Linked DNA regions of Homo sapiens: region 2 is linked to region 1. A link means that fine-mapping ties the variant in region 1 to the expression of a gene that starts in the linked region. Tissue or cell type: tibial artery. Region 1 holds a variant in brackets; the other region holds the start of a gene. All regions are shown on one strand. Distances are between the middles of the regions.

What was found. PIP is the estimated chance that this variant, and not a neighbour inherited with it, causes the effect.
Region 2: NLRC3 starts here. The variant in region 1 is fine-mapped to the expression of NLRC3 in tibial artery (GTEx, PIP above 0.99). The same link has a PIP of 0.9 or more in amygdala, anterior cingulate cortex, aorta, atrial appendage, caudate and cerebellar hemisphere.

What each region holds. Positions count from the first base shown.
Region 1 is chr16:3,533,773-3,544,568 of GRCh38, reverse strand. CLUAP1 (clusterin associated protein 1) reads right to left here. Exons shown (of 12, transcript NM_015041.3): 12 at 5,521-8,447. The coding sequence ends at 8,298. It overlaps NLRC3 (NLR family CARD domain containing 3), which reads left to right. Exons shown (of 20, transcript NM_178844.4): 16 at 240-323; 17 at 1,061-1,144; 18 at 1,794-1,877; 19 at 2,295-2,378; 20 at 2,654-5,536. The coding sequence ends at 2,744. It overlaps LOC101929732 (a long non-coding RNA gene), which reads right to left and starts at 2,660. Exons shown (of 4, transcript XR_007064953.1): 1 at 2,267-2,660; 2 at 1-2,181. RefSeq lists an enhancer at 1-146. The variant T/C (reference allele first, on the strand shown) is at 4,723.
Region 2 is chr16:3,571,156-3,581,259 of GRCh38, reverse strand. NLRC3 (NLR family CARD domain containing 3) reads left to right here and starts at 3,857. Exons shown (of 20, transcript NM_178844.4): 1 at 3,857-4,111. It overlaps LOC105371060 (a long non-coding RNA gene), which reads right to left and starts at 3,757. Exons shown (of 2, transcript XR_001752061.3): 1 at 2,207-3,757; 2 at 39-1,873. SLX4 (SLX4 structure-specific endonuclease subunit) reads left to right here. Exons shown (of 15, transcript NM_032444.4): 15 at 1-79. LOC124903632 (a long non-coding RNA gene) reads right to left here. Exons shown (of 2, transcript XR_007064955.1): 2 at 9,022-10,104. RefSeq lists enhancers at 1-612, 2,514-2,693, 2,724-2,773 and a silencer at 1,974-2,073.

The DNA.
Region 1 (10,796 bases):
TCCCATTTCCTGCTTGCCTCTGGCGGTTCAGACTCATGCAGGCCCCAGACGCCTCTGTGTGCTTAGTATGAGGCGGCGGGCTGCAGGGCCTGTGGAGGAAGGGCAGTTATCCCCAGGAAACCCTGGGAGTGTCTATGGTGTGTGTAGTCGGTTAAACCTGGCAGGTCCAAGTGCGGCAGGGCCTTGCTAGAATGCTCCCTGTGCCCCGTGCACCCAAAGGGGTCATACTCTGTGTCTAGTTTACAGGAGAACGCCATCGGGGATGACGGAGCGTGTGCGGTGGCCCGTGCACTGAAGGTCAACACAGCCCTCACTGCTCTCTAGTAAGTCCTAGATGTGCGCAGCAGTCAGGAAACCGGTCCCTTCGCCATCCTTTCACGTTAGAGGTCTTTTTTTTTTTTTTTTTCCTCGAGACAAGAGTCTTGCTCTGCCACCCAGGCTGGAGTGCAGTGACATAATCTCAGCTAACTGTAACCTCCACCTCCTGGGTTCAAGTGATTCTCAAGCCTCAGCCTCCCATACAGTAGTTGGGATAACAGGCGTGCACCACCACACCCAGCCTAATTTTTGTATTTTTAGTAGAGACGGGGTTTCACCATATTGGCCAGGCTGGTCTCAAACTCCTGACTTCAGGTGATCTGCCCACCTCAGCCTCCCAAAGTGCTGGGATTACAGGTGTGAGCCACCACACCTGGCCTGGACGTTATTTTTGTTTACAAGTCAAGGAAGGTGTGTTTGATTTTCCTAATATAGGAAATATGATATTAGCAGTTGGGGGCTCAAACACCTAGAGAGTAGTAATGAGGAGGTACAGGGAGCATTCTCCCCGAGCCCTTCCAGGGACAGCCTCTATTTCTCATCTCCTTAGCATCCAGATCTCTGTCTTAGGCAACAGACAGTGTAGGTAGGAGATGGAGTGCCTAGACACAGCGCTGGCCAACCATTCTCAGTGCTGTTTCTCCACTTTCCATCCTGAGTCAAGGGGTGGTGAAAGGGAACGGAGTATGCGGAGGGAGGTGGGCCCAGCCGGCTCACACTGACGGCACCCTCTCCGCCCCAGTCTCCAGGTGGCCTCAATTGGTGCTTCAGGCGCCCAGGTGCTAGGGGAAGCCTTGGCTGTGAACAGAACCTTGGAGATTCTCGAGTAAGTATTCCAGTCTCCATCTATGGTCTTTAGCCCAAAGAAATCAATGAATTCTCAATGAATAGATATGGGGACAAAGTTTACAGACAACTCACAAATCATCCTGGTGATCTTCATTTCAGTGCAAGTATACCAGTTTCCCAGCCCCACTTCATGCCTTTCCCTGGGAGTCGCTATCATTTGCCCTCCTCTCCGGGTTGGCCTTGCCAGGCTGAACACGTCTAGAGGCCTGGTTTATGGGTCCCAGGGGGGCTGATCTTGTTCTCTGGGCAGATCCAAAGTCCTGGGGTGAGGTTACAGCTCTGAGGCTCAGGCATGTCCTCAGAATTCCTGCCCTTGCTGGGAGCACTGGGGACCTGCCCAGATGGAGGGCTGCCTCTCCTGTCTCAGCCCCGCTTTTCTGTTTGAAATGGAAGAGGAGGAAGGCTCCAACAACCCTCCTGGCTAGGCCAGCCATGCCCCTGTGTGCCCTGCTTCCCAGAGCCAGCTCTGCCCTGTTGCCCTGGAGTGAGGAAGGCACAGCCCTGGCCTCCTGTGACTGCTGAAGTCCTTGTTTCCTCTACCAAGCAGCCCCAAGCCCACCCGCAGAGGGGTCAGTATCACCTCTCAGCCTGTACCCATGCCTTAGGCTTCCTGTCTTTCCCAACAGCTTAAGAGGAAATGCCATTGGGGTGGCTGGAGCCAAAGCCCTGGCAAATGCTCTGAAGGTAAACTCAAGTCTCCGGAGACTCAAGTAAGTGGCTGGAGGGACCTACCTGCATCCTGGAGCAGCAGAGTTCTCTGCTGGGTCCTCCCTGATGGAATAAAATGCTCCTGATTTCTTCTGTAGCTATTTCCTTCTGAATATAAACAATCAGACTTATTATAGTCCACATTCCACTGCAGCTGGGTTTGTTGAGTGTGCTTAGCTTCAGTCAGAAGTCACTCACATCTTGCATTTATGGCCTTACATCCTCCAGCGCACTTGCGTGGGACAATCTGGCCACTCGTAGACACCTGTCTCCAGGGTCAACTCCCACCTGGAGTTGCCATGGCACCTGTGGACACATCTGCCTGGGTTACTGCCCCCAGACAATGCACTGTTGCTTCCCCGGGTGTTTTCCTTCTGCCCTGATGGCTCACCGTGTGTCTCCATCTCTTTTCCACTTAGTCTTCAAGAGAATTCTCTGGGGATGGACGGGGCGATATGCATTGCCACAGCACTGTCTGGAAACCACAGGCTCCAGCATATCAAGTGAGTGCACCTGCCCTTCCTGCTCACCCTTAGAACTGCTTCCAGGTGGCGCACTGCCTTTTGCCCAGTTCTGAGAGCCAGCTGACCCCCAGACGCTTCAGCAGGCCTATAGGGAAACCTGGTCTAAGGGGAGGTACCCTGAGCCTTGTCCATGTAGCGAGGGGATCCTAGAAGCACAAAGGCTTTGCATGGGGTCCTGCATTTTCTATTGTATGGCCTGCTCTACTAAAGAGAACCTGCAGGCTTTGAGCCCTGCCTTAACCCTACTCTTCTAGTCTCCAGGGAAACCACATTGGGGACTCCGGGGCCAGGATGATCTCAGAGGCCATCAAGACAAATGCTCCCACGTGCACTGTTGAAATGTGATCCTGGTGGACGGATCAGGAGAATGGGCAGATGCTCAGCTGGAAGCTTTTGAACAGAAAGGCCGACTTCTGGGGGGCCTGTCTGGGAGCTGGGAACGCTGCTTGCTCAGCACGAGAGCCGGGCTCTGCAGGGAGGAAGGAGAGGTGCTGCCGGAGGAGGTCGTGAGCTCCTCTTCTGCTGCAGGAGTGGTCCAGGCAGGGGGTGACGGGTACTCTGTTATGGCACAGAGAAGGGAGGGGCCACCCCCAAGGGACTAGGGGCCAAAGGCCTGAAAGCTGAGCAGTACAGGAGGCTGGTTCCAGCTTTACACCCTGAGGACTTCATGTGTCCCCAACCTTTAAAAATGTTTATTACTGCCCCTTTCCACTCACCTGGTTAAAAATCATCCCATGCTCTGAGATGAGCTGCCACCTCAAGCCCGTGAGGAGCATCCGTTTGGTAGGGGTAACAGAGGGGACCCTTCTTTATCTTCTCAAGAAGAAGATTTCAGGGTATCATCCTTACAGACATGAAAAAGCTATGGGAAAATTGTGAAGATAAATGAAAGTTTTAATTCTAGGATTCTGGAAACAGAGACAGTAAGAGTTCTCCAAGGATTTTGCCTTTTTTGTTTGTTTTTGAGATGGAGTCTCGCTCTTGTCGCCCAGGCTGGAGTGCAGTGGCACGATCTCAGCTCCCTGCAACCTCCGCCTCCCGGGTTCATGTGATTCTCCTGCCTCAGCCTCCCCAGTAGCTGGGAATACAGGCACCCGCCACCATGCCCGGCTAATTTTTGTAGTTTTAGTAGAGACGGGGTTTCATCATGTTGGCCAGGCTGGTCTCGAACTCCTGACCTCAGGTGATCCATCAGCCTGGGCCTCCCAAAGTACTGGGATTACAGGCATGAGCCACCACACCTGGCCCCATTTTTTATTTATTACAAAATCAAAGACATGGGTGATGCCTGGCACATGTTGTCTGGAGTCTGGCACACTGGTTATCAATAGCACATTCAGTGTATTCAGTGATGTCATTCTTTATTTATTTTTGAGACAGAATCTGTCACCCAGGCTGGAGTGCAGTGGCATGATCTCAGCTCACTGTAGGCTCTACCTCATGGGTTCCAGTGATTCTCCTGCCTCGGCCTCCCAAGTAGTTGGGTCTACAGGCACGCACCACCACACCCAGCTAATTTTTGTATTTTTAGTAGAGATGGGGTTTCACCATGTTGATCAGGCTGGTCTTTAACTCCTGACCTCAAGTGATCCACCCACCTCAGCCTCCCAAAGTGCTGGGATTACAGGTGTGAGCCACTGCACCTGGCAGTGATGTCATTCCTTACTAGGCTTCCAAAGCCACTGCTGTGGCCACAGCTTCCATGGAGACAGGCAAGCTGAGCCTCTATGTGGCACCAATTCCTGCAGCTGTTTGTGTTGGAGGGAAAAAAATCCAAATGGACATCAACAGCTTTCATCAACTAAATAACCACAGAAAATATTTATGAAGACTATAAAGCAATGATTACTTTTGAATTGGAAAGGAATCACTATTATTTGAAATGTTTCTTCAAAAGTGAGCATCCGGACAGGAACCATCATGGATGCTGAGGCCATGGATGAAGGCCTACTCGGGAAGATGATATCCTTGCAGTCTCAAAACGGCACCCCACAAAGGTGATATCCTAATTTACAAAGGGAAAAAGGTACCTTAATCTGAAATCTGGCAAATGCAGCCTCAACAGAAGTGACAGAATTGAACATCGCCAATAATGGGACACACAGACATCACATGCCCCCAGTCTGATGCACCACGGAGTCGTCTCTGATGTATTCTTGTCAAAAAATGTTTGCCTGATTCTAATCATGAAAGAACAATTAGAAAAAATCCAAATTGACAGATATTCTGCAGAATAAATGGCCTGACCTCATCAAAAACATCAATGTCATGAAAAACACAAAACATTGCAGATAGCGTGAAATTAAAGATTACAGAGATATAA[T/C]TTAATGCAAGATCTCTGACTGGATCCTAGACTGCAGGAAAAAGTCTGCTATAAAGAACATTTGGATCACTTGTAGTAGCTGGGAAATAAAACAAAACATTATTTGTAAAAGGGGGGAAATCTGAACATGGGTCTTGCAGTATTTATGACAGTTTTTGCGGGGCAGAGATTTCTAGATTGACAGCTGTTTTAGTACTTTCAAGGTGATGCTCTGTCTGCTGGTTTGCATTGTTTCTGTCTGAGTTAAGAGACTGGCAGAACACAGAGTTGCAGTAGCCAAACACTGGAGAAAGCTGGGCCCTACAGAAACCTAACGCTGAAGAAACCTCAGGAGCCAAACTGGTGGAGAAAACAAAGAGTCCTCCCTCTCTCCCTTTTCAAATAATGATCATACATCTTCAAGCTGTCTGAAATGGTTAAGGAGTTCAGTCTGTCGTCAGGCACACACCAGAGCCAGCTAGCCCACACAGACCCCATCAGAGCAAAACAGACAAGAGAATTTAATTCATATCCACATAGAAAGGACTTCTAGGTAGGAGGTAGACCCTTTAGCTCCCTTCCAATTAAAGGAGTCCCCAATTCTGGCACCTGAGAGTCCCCTGGGTCTAACAGCTATGATATTTATGTAGTGTGTTGCTTACCTAAATGAATACAATTTCCTTCCAGACACGTGACACTGATATTAAAGTGCTAATGAGAGGGATCTATTTCTTCTTGTACGCTAAAAGAGAAACAGCAGTTCAGATTTCCCATCAGAAGTCCGAGGACTTTGTTCTTGATAACTACTACCAATAAAAATTGAGTATTTGAAAAATTCCTTTGTATTTTCCATCCATACACATTTTTTTTTAAAGCATTTTAGGAAGTCCTCTAATTATATAGTAAAAATTGTCAGCAATGGCCTGCTAGTTTTCTATTTGACCTAATCACAACCATCCTCGTTAGGTCCTGAGGTCTGCTCTGCTGCTTGGCCAAAACCAAATGGTGCCAGGTCACAAAGCACTTGCACATGTGAATCCTGCATCCATTCTACAATGGGTCACTATTGACTGAAATACTTTAATAAAAATGATAGAGCACATAAAGCTTGCTGTTGACAGAAACTTCCGTGCTCAAGCAAGGCAGTGCTATACATGGTGAGACCTTGCACAAAGTCAGTTAACTAACAGATGATCTAGAAGCAGGTGACACAATGAAATACCCTTTGGAGCTGTTGCCTATGTCTGTGGATAGGCTCTTTGTAGCTAGGTTAGGCTTCTGTGTTAAAGTGTGTTAGAAGAAAGCATCACATAAGGAAAATAGAACTCTATTCGTATGTTTTTTCAAAACAGAAGTCAAGTCACATTCAGGCAAACCAAATCTGTAACATTCAAGAAGATGCAGTGACTCTTCCGCATCTTAGAGCCACGGTGTCTGAGGTGGCTGGCATGGCTCCAACACGCTGGCTTCCCTGTCAGTGGATCATTTACAATATGGTGCATTTCAAATTACTGGTGAATTCACTGAATACTGGCTGTTTTTTTTTTTTTAGGGGTAATCTTATACATAAAATTTAGGAAAAGAAAGAGAAAAAAGCAAAAATGACAGAAATAACTCAAAAGTTCCTAAAATTTATGTGTATCTTTTCGTACCTGTGAACTCCTGAATAAGTATTTATATCTGACAGGTACAAATACAATAATTATATTTTTAAGTAAAACCTATTTAATAATATGAAGTATGGTGTTAAATACATGTATTAAAAGATAAGTAACTTCAGAAGTCTTCTGACTTTTTAATTGTAAAATAAGTGAAAACTGTTTTGTGCTTTTTTATTTACTGTATGCTTTTTTTTTTTTTTTTTTTTTTGAGATGGAGTCTCACTCTGCTGCCCAGGCTGGAGTGCAGTGGCGCCATCTCGGCTCACTGCAACCTCCGCCTCCTAGGTTCAAGCGATTCTCCTGCCTCAGCCTCCCCAGTAGCTGGGGTTACAGGCATGCGCTACCACGCCCGGCTAATTTTTGTATTTTTAGTAGAGGTGGGGTTTCGCCATGTTGGCCAGGCTGGTCTCAAACCCCTGACCTCAGGTGATCTACCCACCTCAGCCTCTCAAAGTGCTAGGATTACAGGCATGAGCCACCACGCCTGACCTACTGTACGCTTTTTACAAGCAGCGTGCTTTTCTTTTTCTTTTTTTTAAAGACAGGGTCTCACTCTGTCACCCAGGCTGGAGTGCAGTGGCATGATCACGGCTCATTGCAGCCTCAACTTCCTGGTCTCAAGTGATTCTCCTGCCTCAGCCTCCTGAATAGCTGAGACCACAGGCATGCCCCTCCACACCTGGCTAATTTTTTAATTTTTTGTAGAGATGGAGTCTCACTTAGTTGTCCAGGCTAGTCTAAAACTCCTGGGCTCAAGTGATCCTCCCACCTTGGCCTCCTGAGTAGCTGGACCCAAGGGCGCTTGCCACCACTCCCAGCTAAGTACTTTTCATATTAAAAAAAAAGAAGAAGAAAAAAGAAAAAAACCAACTCCACTTCTAATTTCACAACAGAAAAATTCTTCTAGTGCTATTACTCTACTTAATTCAATCCTGTGTTGTTGTTTTTTTAAATCAGAAACATGAATCTGTACCAACACTTTTTCTTAATTGGCTCCTTCCCCTACAGAAACACTTAGGTAGCGAGCTGCAGGAAACCTGCCTTTGTCCCTGTGTTGTGCACTATGTCTTGCCACACTTTAGACAAAACAAAGCTCCTTTAGAGAAACCCTGGCTGGAGGGAAGAAAAGTGTCCCGGCTGTCATTGCCATGGGAGTCTGGAGTTTCTGAGAGGGCAGCCCAGGTCACCAGAGTTTCCAGATTTAGTACCAACCGTGGAAACATGAAGGTGGCTGTAATCCAAGGTGAACTGGACTGCCAGAGGAATGTCAGCTTCGGACAGAAAATGGAGGATTCCTCATCTGGAGCCTGTCTCTATTGCCTGATTTTCAAAGAAACCAAGTTTTCATTTAACTTTAGCTAACCTTCTTTCAGAAAAGTTTAGTTATTAAAATACATTTAATGCTTGGTATTGTGAACATGCAGACGAAAGAAAATAAGATTACAAAATGAAATAAGAGCTAGAATTAAAAGCCGATGTATAGGAAATGTTCTCAACTGTGCAAGTGATTAACAGCCAGATGTTCCCCTACGATTCCAAACATGAGTCCCCAGTGCCAAGTTCCAGCCCCAACTCTGCTGGAGTCTCAGAGAAAATGTATAGTAACAAAAGCAGCCAAGACTTGTGTGGCGTCAGCTCTTATTTCTTCTTGAGTTTTTGTCCCGTGGATGTGAATCACTAAGAACACATGCATTCCTCAAGTTTTAGAAGATAAATAAGGTGGAAAAAAATAAATCTTAGGGATTTGCTTCAATTCTTATTTAAGCTTCATGGAATGCAAACATAGGAGGCTAAAGCAGAAATAAGTATTGCTTCAGTGATCATGAGTCCAGCCAGCTTAGTAAACAAAACAGGGGTTACCTTCCTAACCTTCTAAGTTCCCATTTACCTACAAGTCTGAGGGTTTTAATCTGCCAGGGTCCCTTGGCAAAAGGGTCAGAAGTCATTGTCACTCTCATCCAGGGGTTCAGATTTCCGGACCCTTCGATTGGGCTTGGTTGGTGAGAGAGAAATGCTCTCGTCTTCCAAATCGTCATCCTCGTCATCATCATCTTCCATGTCAATTTCACTCTCCTCCGAGTCCTCCTATAGGAAAAAAATGGCAGATGCAACGGGGGATCCTGCCTCATTCCTGACATCTTGTCCTAAGACTCTCTGCCTCCCTTTCTATAGCAGCATCCCTGTGTGAAGGAAGAGGCTGGCAGAGTGGCAAGCAGGCTGTGGGAGGGCATACAGATGGGACTGAGGCTATGTACTGCCAGCTGGAATTTATCATCCAACCAGAATCCTCCAAACTGCAGGTGCATCTGGGTGTGGTGCTGCAGGGGCTGGCTTTCCCGCAGCGTCTAAGAAGCACTCTGCATCTGCGCTGAGGGCCACTGGACCTAGAGACTCCCCCTACAGATGGCAAGAAGGACAGGGGCTTGGAGAGAGGGAAGGGAGGCCTGTTTTGGCTTTTTGTAGATTGTGGATGGAAAGCAACATAGACATTGGTATAAGGAGCAAAGTGAATCCCAGCTACTCCGGAGACTGAGGCAGAAGAATCGCTTGAACCTGGGAGGCAGAGGTGCAGTGAGCCGAGATTGCACCACTGCACTCCAAAGCAAGACTCCATCTCAAAAAAAAAAGAAAAAAAAGAAAAAAAGGGAGCAAAGTGAAAGACACACCCTCTCTCTCCTCATCGGATCCAGGGCTCCAGGGTGACCAACTCAGCCCAGCTTTAAAACGGCAGTTCCTGCGTCCCATGTAAACCAGGATGGCTGGTCGTTCTATCTAGATCATTCCTGTCGGTGCACACTCATGCTGTAATTTCCTTCTTGAAAAAAAACCCCAAAGGTAATCCCACCTTCCTCTCCAGCTGCTCTGCCCTGTCTCTCTCCCCTCACACAAAGCTCCTGAGCGAGTCGTTGAACTCACTGTCCACACCTGTGCCCCTCACGACTGCTTCAGTTCCCCCGGGCTCTCACCTACTGACCCCAGCACTGCTCCTGTCAAGAAGGAAACATTCAACGGACTGGGATCGATTCTCAGGCCTCATCCTGCTTGAGCTGTGGAATCACCCCTTCATCCTTAAAACCCATCTTCTCCATCCCCCAGGGCCCCTTCTCTAGTCCAGGTCCCCCTTCCTCACTGCTGACGCCCCTCAGCCTCCTCTGCCTGCCCCTTCCTCCCGGACCTCTGCAGGGCAGATGCAGCTCAGGACCTTGGGTCGCCTCTCTTCTCATTCTACTTGCTCTCCCTAGGCAGTCACATCTATCCTTGTGGCTTAGATACCAACCAAATAAGGGTGGCTCCCAAAATTCAATCTCTAGCCCAGACGTGGCCCTTGAACTCCAGACTTAAATTCCACCTGGCTACTCAACCCTAGCATGTGGCTGTCACATTCAGAATGTCCAAAATCAAACTTTCGATCTGCCTTCCAAGCCCCTTTGTCAAGTCGGCCCCATCTCAGAAAATGAAACTCTGCTTTCTGCTGATTAGACCAAGCCCAGGCACCCTCATTTTTCTCTTTCTCTAACAGCCTATGTCCAATCAATTCACAAAACCTGATGGTTCTTAGAGAGACCCAGGACCTGACCATTTCTCAACACCTCTGCTGCCACACCTTCGGCCAAGCACCGTCACCTCTGACCTCCACGGGTGCAGGCGCCTCCTAACTGGCTTCTCTCAAACAGGGATCATCAGCTCTTGACCCTTCTGGGCTCATGATTCTTCAGGGCCTTCCCCTCACACTCAGAGAAAACAGAGTCTTCATCTCACCCTGCAAAGCTCTGCATGGCCCCTGCTGCCTCTCGCACTCACCCACAATCACACCAGCTGCCTCTGCTCCTCGATGCGAGGAGTGCATTCCACATGCCCAGGTGCCGCCAACCCATGCGCTCGCTCCCTCCACTCAGGCCCTGCTCAAACACCACCACGTCAGGGGCCTTCACTGACCTCGCAGAAGACGCCACCCCCTCCTTGTTCCCTGTCACTCCCTGTCCCCTGAAGCTGTTATTCCTCCTGTTAACACCATGAGCCCTGATCCGACAATCCATCATTATTGCTGGGGTGTGAGCCATGAAGCAGGGGCTTGCCTCTGCCCCTGCTGCGTTCCCCATAATCCACGACAGCACTGGCATGTGGCAGGCACTCAACAGACACGTGTTGGATGCCTGAACACGTAAAGCATGGAACCCTGTGCCTGGAGGGCGGCATGGACACAGCCTCCTTGAAATAAACAAGTGACCACCAGGCATAAAGCTCAGCTGCGACTAATGCATTCGCTCTGAGGAGAGAGAAGGCAAACCCTGGAGAAGAGGCAGGCGGTGCTGCCTCAGCATTGCCAGCACCCACGCCACACTCCCTCTGCTTCTGTCTTGGGTGGGCAAGACGGAGAGACGCTGTATACCATCCACACCCGAGCTTGTTAGGAAAATTATTTTCCAGTTGCTC
Region 2 (10,104 bases), 37 kb before region 1:
GTGAATGTCCTCGTCTGTTTCAAATACAGTGCAGTCAGTTTTATATGATGTGCAATAAACCAAAAAGGCTTTATTAAAATCTGGCTGCCACACTCCAGGGAGACCACGAGCGAAACGGGGGACCTGGAGGCACCGTGGCCCCTCAGCCCGTGCCCCACGCCTGCAGAAGTCCCCACCTTGCACCTGCCCTTTACTTTGGAGTAACCTGGGCCTGCTGTCTCCTCATTTCAGTTCCCAGACCAGAGATGCAGATGTTCATCCATTAATCCACACACCCGTATCCAACAGAGCCCTGGCTGGGTGCCAAGCTCCAGCCCCCGCACCTCAAAGTGGGGCCCAAGCACCCCCAGCTGCTGCCTCAGCCGGGAGTTGCTACAAAAGCAGATTCAGGCCCCACCCCACAACTCACCAAGACAGCACATGCCTTTACCATTGCGTCCGGTCCAGTGGAGGAGACAGACGCTGGCCTATCCCAGCCTGGTGGGGAGTCGGGCTCCAGTGGCTTGAAGGGCCGTGTCAGGGACAGCCTCCCAGAAGAGGGGTTTGTGAGCTGCATCTTAGGGCTCAGCAGCATTTAGGGGGTGAAATGTGATTTCTGGCGCACATACTATGTCCTGGCACGTGAACCAGCGGAGAGGCCCAGGCCTCCCAGCTTACGGTGCCCGGGGCGAACAATTTGAGAGGCTGAGATCAGCTGTGATCAATCTGAGGCTGGCCTCTGGCCTGTTTCGGAAGGCATCACGCACTGCTTCCTTGATGGGCTGATCCCCCTCCCTGGTGTTAGGGAAGCGAGAGGGAGTGGTGCAGGTGGGGGACTCGGGGCCCCTGTCCGGCCTCGCAGGGTTTGTGGTTTGGGGAAGTATGTGTTATGTGCCATGACTTGAAAGTTCAGAACTTCAAGGCTGGTAAAGATGGGTTGGGGGAGGGGTTCCAAGTAGTTAACAAGCTGGGTTAGGAGCCTTGAGTGCAGTGTGAGCCCAAGGCCAGGGGAGGCATGGCCTGGGGACTGGATTCGAGCCTTGTGGTGACCTTGGATTCAGTTGGGGCTGCTGGACGCTCCCTGGGCTGACAGCGCTGGGCAGAGGCTTGGTTTATGCACTGCCACCCAGCCAGGGGACTGGATGCTGGCCCTGAACCTGTACAAAGCAGCATTTCCTTGTCCTGAAACAAGCTGTGAAGCAGCTGATTCCTCCAGAGGGAAAGGGTTGAAGGAGTCACTGCAGGAACCCACAGAGGCGTGGTGGCATCCAGGAGTAGACCTGGCCCCTGCTACAGGGATGACGCTGACCCGGGCAACATAAAACTAGGTCCAGTTGACAGATGGAAAATGCCTTCTCACAGCGCCTGCAGCAAGACTGGCAGGCAATGGGGCCTCTTCATGGACAAGGCGAGAGAGAGTTACCTTCCAGGAGTGACTGAGAAGGAAGCTGGCATGCCGGGTGCGGTGGCTCCCACATGTAATCCCAGTGCTTTGGGAGGCCAAGGCAGGAGGATCACTTGAGCCCAGGAGTTTGAGACCAGCCTGGGCAACATAGTAAGGCCAAGTCTCTATTTTGAAAACAATATTAAAAACATTTCTAAAGGGGGAGAATAAAAGACTGGCAGCAGAACTTTCACTGGTAACAACTAAATCAGAAAACGGGTCTGTCTATGCCTCACTGTAATATGAACAGGCCTCCAGGCCTGTCCCACTTTTGGTGGCCCCAACCTGGCATGGCTTGGGCACAGCCCCTCAAGGCAGTCACAGGGGAGCCACACCCCAGCCTGGGCCCAGGCAAGGGCACTTACAAAGAAAGAGCCTGCAGGCAGGGGCCTTGCGCTGTTGCTGAGTTAGGAAGGGCTGAGGTCGCTTCCTGTCTGGCTGACCCCAGCTCTGGGTGGACAGAAAGCCCCAGAGTGAGAACAGTTAGGGAGCCCCCAGCCCAGCACCCCCACCTCCACCAGGAGCCAGGAGGACGGCCCACCTGGTTCTCAGCAGAGCGGGCAGAGTGGGGAATGGGACCAGCCCTGTGTGGACTGATGGACATTCCTGCGAGGGGGAGGAACGGGCGGGGCGGGGCGGGGCGGGGCTGGGCTGGGCTGGGTTGGGCTGCTCCCCAAGATCCCGTGGATGAGGCTGTGTCCTCTCAGGCTCCGCATCCATCCCCCTGAGCCACAAAGGGAGGCAGTGTGAGCCTCTGGCCCCTTTTATGTGACGGATACCCACCGGGCCCTGTGGTTTCCAACATCCTGTGGGCGGCCTGGTTTCAGGCGCCTTTGTTGCTCCCCACAGCCGAGGCTGCAGCTGCTGGGTCTGCACTCTGCCTGCCTGGAGCCTCGGGCAGCCTTCTCGAGGGTCCATCGTGTCCTCCCAGCACCCAGCAGGTTCCTGGGTGCTCAGAAAGCATTGTTGGGAGGGAGGGAGAGGAAGGAGGGACAAAAGAAGGTAGGCAGGCAGGGGAATGTGCAGGAGCACTTCTGGTCTGCTGCCTCAGTTCCCTCCCCCCCATCACCCACACAGGCTCTGGGGAACCAGCTAACCCTCCTACCTCCCCTGAGCCACAAGCTGCTCTATGAGTCCAGACCCACTACTCTCCTGCTCTACAACCATTGCTGGCTCCCACTTGCTTGCTGAGGAAAATTCAGACCCCAGGACCCCTGTCCCTTGGCTCCCACCTTGTCACCTCCTTCCCTCAGTGGCCCCATGTTGCTTGCTCCCTGTCCCCAGCGGATGTCCCATACTTTATTGTAATTTTTCTCATGTGGCTTGCTCTGGGCCATGTCCTTCCCCCTCACGCCCTTCCCTGTCAGGGCAGGCCACCCACTGAGGTCCACTTCCAGGGGCCGAGTGCGATCTCCTGCCGCGGACGGCAACATTCTGCTGTTTCCTCTTAGGGTACAGGTGACCTGCCTCTGGGGAGCCCTTTGCTCACAGGAAGATGTTATGGGGCACAGCTGAGTCAGAGGTGCCTACTGGGTGACAGAGAGAAAAGAAAGCAAGAGGTGTTAAAAGAGGGAGCACAGTGGCTCACACCTGTTATCTCCGTGTTTTGGGAGGCCAAGGCAGGAGGATCACTTGAGCCCCAGGAGGTAGAGGCTACAGTGAGCCGAGATCACACCACTGCACTCCAGTCTGGGTGACAGAGCAAGATCCTGTCTCAAAAAATAAATAGGCTGGGCGCAGTGGCTCACGCCTGTAATCCCACCCCTTTGGGAAGCCAAGGTGGGTGGATCACCTGAGGTCAGGCGTTCAAGACCAGCCTGGCCAACATGGCAAAGCCCCTCCTCTGCTAAAAATACAAAAATTAGCGGGGCATGGTGGCGCATGCCCGTAATCCCAGCTACTCAGGAGGCTGAGGCAGGAGAATCTCTTGAACCTGGGAGGGGGAGGTTGCAGTGAGCCGAGATCGTGCCATTGCACTCCAGCCTGGGCAACAGAGCGAGACTCTGTCTCAAATAAATAAATTAAATAAATAAATAAGGAGAGCCACAGGGGTGGCCTGGAGGTGGCAGGGCACAGTCCAGTCCTGCTGGGGTCACCCTCTAGTTGCGTGACCTCAGGCTGCTCACTTGATTTCCTGACCACCCGCCTGAAAACAAGCATTTGTTGATGGCGGGGCAGCTTCCTTTGTGGCGGGATGGAGGTGATGTGTCAACAGCCTTGGCACCAGCCACTTTATCCTGAGCATGCCACCTGCAGGGACACTTAATCCCAGAGTCAAGACCCCCAGCATCGCCCCCGCACTTAACTTGCACGGGGGCGGTGACCAAGCCAGGGTGCCCCGGCTCCTCGATGTGTCTGCGAGGCTGTTGGCTGTTGAAATCAGACAGGAAGGAAGAATGAGGTGGAGCCCAGCACAGGAAGAGGTGAGGACCCGGAGCCACAGGGACAGCCGGTGGGCTCGGTGGGGCTGCAGAAGGTCGGGGCTGCACTGCTCTCGGCCCCCACACGGTTGGTTGGTTGGCGTGGTAAGTGCCCTGATCCCTGGTCCTGAGAACTCAGGCTGGCACAGGGATTCCCAGGGCATCTACCACCACGCAGCTGGAGCAGGGCTGAGCCCAGGAGCATGGAGATGGACGCCCCCAGGCCCCCCAGTCTTGCTGTCCCTGGAGCAGCATCGAGGCCCGGGAGGTAAGTTGGGTCCAGGTGACCTCAGTGCAGGGCAGGGGAGGGAGAAGGGATGCTGGCAGGAAGGACAGTGGCCTTAAGGCCTGAGCTACTCTGGGGAGGGGGACTGGGGAGACTCCACGAGACTCCAAGAAGCTGTCTCCTGGGGCAGGACTGGCTCATGCTGTAGAAAAAAGAGATGTGGCCAGGCACGGTGGCTCACGCCTGTAATCCCAACACTTTGGGAGGCCAAGGTGGGCGGATCACTTGAGGTCAGGACTTTGAGACTAGCCTGGCCAACATGGTGAAACCCCATCTCTACTAAAAATAAAAAATAAATTAGCCAGGCATGTTGGCAGACGCCTGTAATCCCACCCAGCTAGTCGGGAGGCTGAGGCAGGAGAACCGCTTGAACCCGGGAGGCGTAGGTTGCAGTGAGCCGAGATCGAGCCACTGCACTCAATCCTGGGTGACAAAGCGAGACTGTCTCCAAAACAAAACAAAACAAAACAAAAAAGAAAAGAAAAAACAGGTAACTAAGAATGGCCCAGGACAGGTCCCAGGGACAAAACCCAGCTCCCCCAGGTACCAGTGATGGCCCAGGAGAAGCAGGAAGCATCTTGAAGGTGCTGCGGGCAGGCAGTGGTGATGCTGAGCCACGGCCTGGGGAATCGGCAGACCTGGGCACCCTTCCTGGCACTGGGACCCCCCATGGGAGGCTACTTCTCTGGGCCTCAGCACCCCACCTGTAGATGGAGGTGACAGCACAGGAGGGGCGAGGTCATGAGGGGCAGGGAGGGTGCAGGCGCCGCCCCCAGGCGAGTGGGCAGCCCCAGGGCCTCTCCTGCCCACAGCCTTGGGTGAGACAAGGGTCGAGAGAGACGGCAACCGCAGAGGCCTTCTCGGAAGAAGTGCCACTGCCCTGGGCCAGCCTGGGTGTTGGCTGCAGGGTCTTCCCCTATGGCCAGGCTCCAGAGGCCCTGGTGTTTTTCTGGACCCCTCCCTGGAGGTGACCCTGAGCCTGGGGCTCACTGTTGGCCATCACAGGCTGCAGGCTGCACCCCTCTTCTTCTGTCCCAGGGTGCTGGGCTCCCCAGGGCTGGGCCTCTCCACCCCTTGGACTCCAGGGGTCCATGCAGTGAGCAGGGTAGGGCCCTGAGGTGCAGGTGCCACTTCCTTCTTCCTTCGGGAAGGCTTTTGAGCTCAAGTGATGATGCTGGGGCCACCTCGAGAGAACCGAGTCCTGAATTCCAAGGCCCTGGGAGGGGGCAGGGGCAGGATGTGGGAAGAGAGGAGCATCCAAGCAGCCGTGGTGGGAGATACTGGCAGCCCAGGTAGGCAGCCAGCACTGGGAAGTCCCACCCGGGCGCCAAGTGGCAGGGAAGGACCCAGCAGGTCCCGGCAAGGACTGAGGCACAGATCAGGTGGGCGGGTGATGGGCAGAGGCGGCTAGTCCGTCGGGACTGAGGCTTCTCAGGAATGAGGCAGCAGGCCACTTGCTGAGCCTGAGGAACTGGGCTTGAGCCCACACCACACCAGGAAGGCCTCAGGTTCACCTTCGCTCACAGACAAAGCTCTAGGGGTGAAACCTGGTGCTACCTGGGAGGCTCCCGGGGAGGAGGCAGCAGTGGCACCTACTCGTCCCTCTGGCCTCGCCCTGCTCGCAGCAGCTCAAACCAGCTGTGGAGCGACCTCTGGCCTTCAGATCCCCCAAAGCAACCCGAGTCCCACCTGTCCTCAGTCTCTCTGTCTTTCAGCTGCGCTCACAGGGGCCGCCTGACCATCCATAGTGGCGTCTGCGGCCTCGCGACCTCACTCGGCTGAGAGGTCTGTGGAAGGCTCCAGCCTGCCAGGGGGATGTTAGGGCTGCGTGCAGGGCCTGGCAGCGGTGGCAGCCAGGTAACCAGCCCCCATCAGCCTTTGGGGCTGGTCCTGGGAGGTGCTGGCAATGGCAGGGGGGTTGGTTCACCTGCACCCCCTCCTCTGTCCTTCTTAGGGACAGTGTCCAGGATGAAAGCCACGTTTCGTCTGAATGGGGCCTGAGCAGGGATGCCAGATCAGATACAGGACACTTGGTCAAATGTGAATTTCAAATAATCCATTTCTTTGGTATGTCTCCAGTATGACATAAGCTATGCTTATACTAAAAATTATATGTCGTTTATCTGAAATTTAATTATCTGTGGATATCTCATATTTTATCATTATTTTTTGAGACAGTCTCGCTCTGTCACCCAGGCTGGAGTGCAGTGGCGTGATCTTGGCTCACTGCAGCCTCCACCTCCTGAGTTCAGGCGATTCTCCTGCCTCAGCCTCCAGAGTAGCTGGGACTACAGACATCCACCACCACGCCCAGCTAATGTTTGTATTTTTCGTAGAGATGGGGTTTCGCCATGTTGGTCAGGCTGGTCTTGAACTCCTGACCTCAAGGTGATCTGCCCACCTCAGCCTCCCAAAGTGCTAGGATTACAGGCATGAGCCACTGTGCCCAGGTTTGTCTTGTATTTTAATTTGCTGAATCTGGCAACCCTGGACCCAAGGTCATGGGGCCACAAAGATGGGTGTCTGATCAGGAGGGAGTGCTGACTCCCAATACTGAGAGACTAATGAGGCCACAGAGGCAGGGGTGCTTGCCAGCCCCCTACACCCCGTCCCCGCCTTCCCAGGCGCTTGTGAGTCCTGCCTCGCCCCAACCCCTCACTCCTGCCAGCACTGTCCCTCCCTCATTCCTCTCCCAGCCCCGCTCGGGTCCCGTGGTTCTCAACTCTGGTTAGAACCACCGGAGGAGCTTAAACTAGATCCACGTGGGGGCCCTTGCCAGACCAATCAAATCTCTGGGTGGTCAGGCCGAGCGTTGGTTATTTAAAAGCCGTGCTCCACAAGGCCGGGCGCAGTGGTTCACACCTGTAATCCCAGCACTTTTGGAGGTCAGGAGTTCAAGACCAGCCTGGCCAACATGGTGAAACCCTGTCTCTACAAAAATACAAATGGTATTGATGGTGGGTGCCTATAATCCCAGTTACTGAGGACCCTGAGGCGGGAGAATCACTTGAACCCAGGAGGCAGAGGTTGCAGTGAGACGAGATAGTGCCACGACACTCCAGCCTAGGCAACAGAGTGAGACTCTATCTCAAAAAAAAAAAAAAAAAAAAAAAAAAAAAAAAAGATAAAATGGTTACAATGGGCCAAGCATGGTGGTCCTCACCTGTACCTGTAATCCCAGCTACTTGGGAGGCTGAGGTGGGAGAATCACTTGAGCCCAGGAGGTCGAGGCTGCAGTGAGCCAAGATCGTACCACTGCACTCCAGCCTGGGCAACAAAGCAGGACCCTGTCTTTATTTTTTAGCGACAAAGCAAGACCCTGCCTCTATTTTTTAAGGAAAATTATTTTTAAAATGGTTAAAATGGTAAATTTTGTGTTATGTGTATTTTACCAAAATTTTAAATCAATCAATCAATAAGACCCCAAATGATGCCCTACCAGAGCTGAGACTTCTTCCACGCAGTCCTCTCATCCTCCTGGCCACTCCCGCCCCCAGCAGCAGGGCTGGTCACCTGGTGGGTGCACATGGACATCCAACAACAGGAGGCTGTGTCCACCTGGGCCACACCCTAATGTCACACAGTGAAGGACAGAGGACCCCGTATCCTGGCCTCTGGCATATCAGGCAGACAGTAGCACTGCTTCATTTGGGCTGACATACCTTTGAATGTTTAGATAATTGCTAGCTTTTGTGTGTGTGTGTGAGACAGGGTCTTGCTCTATCACTCAGGCTGGAGTGGAGTAGTGAGATCTCAGCTAACTGCAGCCTTGACGGCGGGAGTTAAGCGATCCTCCCACCTCAGCTTCCTTGAGTAGCTGGGATTACAGGCATGCGCCACCGTGCTCAGCTAATTTTTTTTTTTTTGTACTTTTTATAGAGACAGGGTTTTGCCCATGTTGCTCAGGCTGGTCTCAAACTCCCGGGCTCAAGCAATCCACCCACCTTGGCCTCCTAAAGTGCTGGGATTACAGGGGTGAGCCATGGTGCCCAGCCTCCATCCCTCCTTTTGATGTTTTTTAATTTCTCTCAGTAATGTTTTATAGTTTTCAGTATAGAGGTCTTGCAAATTTTGCTAGATTTATTCCTAGATATTTGATTTTTTTTTTTTTTTTTTTTTGAGATAGAGTCTTGCTCTATCGCCCAGGCTAGAGTGCAGTGGCACCATCTCGGCTCACTGCAACCTCCACCTCCTGGGTTCAAGCAATTCCCTGCCTCAGCCTCCTGAGTAGCTGGGATTACGGTCACCCACCACCATGCCCAGCTAATTTTTGTATTTTTAGTAGAGACGGGGTTTCACCATGTTGGCCAGACTGGTCTCGAACCCCTGACCTCAGATGATCTGCCTGCCTTGGCCTCCCAAAGTGCTAGGATTACAGGTGTGAGTCACCGCGCCTGGCCCACATATTTCTTTAGGATAAATTCCCAGAAGTGGAATTTCTAGGACAAAAGATATTTAATGACAACAGATAATGGTTATTATAATCCAGAATTGTTATACTAATTTATACTTCCACCCACTATGAATTAAGATTCCCACTACAGGCCTGGCACAGTGGCTCATGCCAATAATTCCAGCACTTTGGGAGGCCAAGGTGGGAAGATTGCTTGACCCCAGAAGTTGGAGACCAGCCTAGGCAACATGGCAAGACCCTGTCTCTACAAAAAATACAAAAATTAGCTGGATGTGGTAGCATGCGCCTGTAGTCCCAGCTACTTTGGAGGATCACTTGAGCCCAGGGAAGTTGAGGCTGCAGTGAACCCTGATCATGCCACTGCACTCCAGCCTGGGTGACACAGTGAGATCCTGTCTCAAAAAAAAAAAAAATTTCCCACTACCTCCATGTTCTCACCAATGCAGTCTGTTATGTTATAATATTCACCAATGAGACGTATGAAAAATGATAGTTTATTCTTTTGCTTTTTTCTTGATCCTTAGTGACACTGAGCATCTTTTCAATATCTTGGTCATTTATACTTCTATGAATTATCTGTGTCCTTTTTTCTATTTCATTTGGGGTTCATAATTCTGTTTGGTTACTTATTATTGATTTATAAGTTCTTTATATATTAAGGATATTCATATTTTTCCATGTATGTTGCAAATGTTGACTCCTGGCTTATAGTTTTTCTTTCAACTTTATGGCATCTATTATTACTTATAAATATTTTAATTATTATTATTATTTTTTGAGATGGAGTCTCGCTCTGTCACCCAGGCTGGAGTGCAGTGGCGCCATCTTGGCTCACTGCAACCTCTGCCTCCCGGGTTCAAGCGATTCTCCTGCCTCAGCCTCCCGAGTAGCCGGGACTACAGGCACGTGCCACCACGCCCAGCTAATTTTTGTATTTTTAGTAGAGATGGGGTTTCACCATGTTGGCCAGGCTGGTCTTGATCTCTTGACCTTGTGATCCACCCGCCTCAGCCTCCCAAAGTGCTGGGATTACAGGCGTGAGCCACCACGCCTGGCAAATATTTTAATTATTTAATATCAAACTAAATATTTAATTATTTAATATTTTAATTCAATTAAGACAAATTTACTAGTCTCCCTCTTCATGAATTCTGCTTTTTTTTTTTTTTTTTAAAGCCAGGGTCTTGCTCTGTCACCCAAGCTGGATTGCAGTGGCACAATCATAGCTCACTGCAGCCTCAGCCTCCTGAGCTCAAGGGGTCCTCCTACCTCAGCCTCCCCATAGCTAGTTCCACAGGTGCCCACCACCAGCCCCATCTATTTTTTTTTTTTTGTAGAGATGGTGTGTCACTATGTTGCCCAGGCTGACACTTCTGAGTTTTACGTCTCACTGTAAAAAACCTTTACCTAAATAATATTTTAAAATATTATCTCATATTTTCTTATTGTGCTTTTATGGTTTTGTGTTTACAACTTTTAACTCCTTAATTGACCTGAAAATAAATTTTGTGTTTAATGTGAATTACAGCTGGAAAATATTTTTCATAGGCTGGTCAATTGC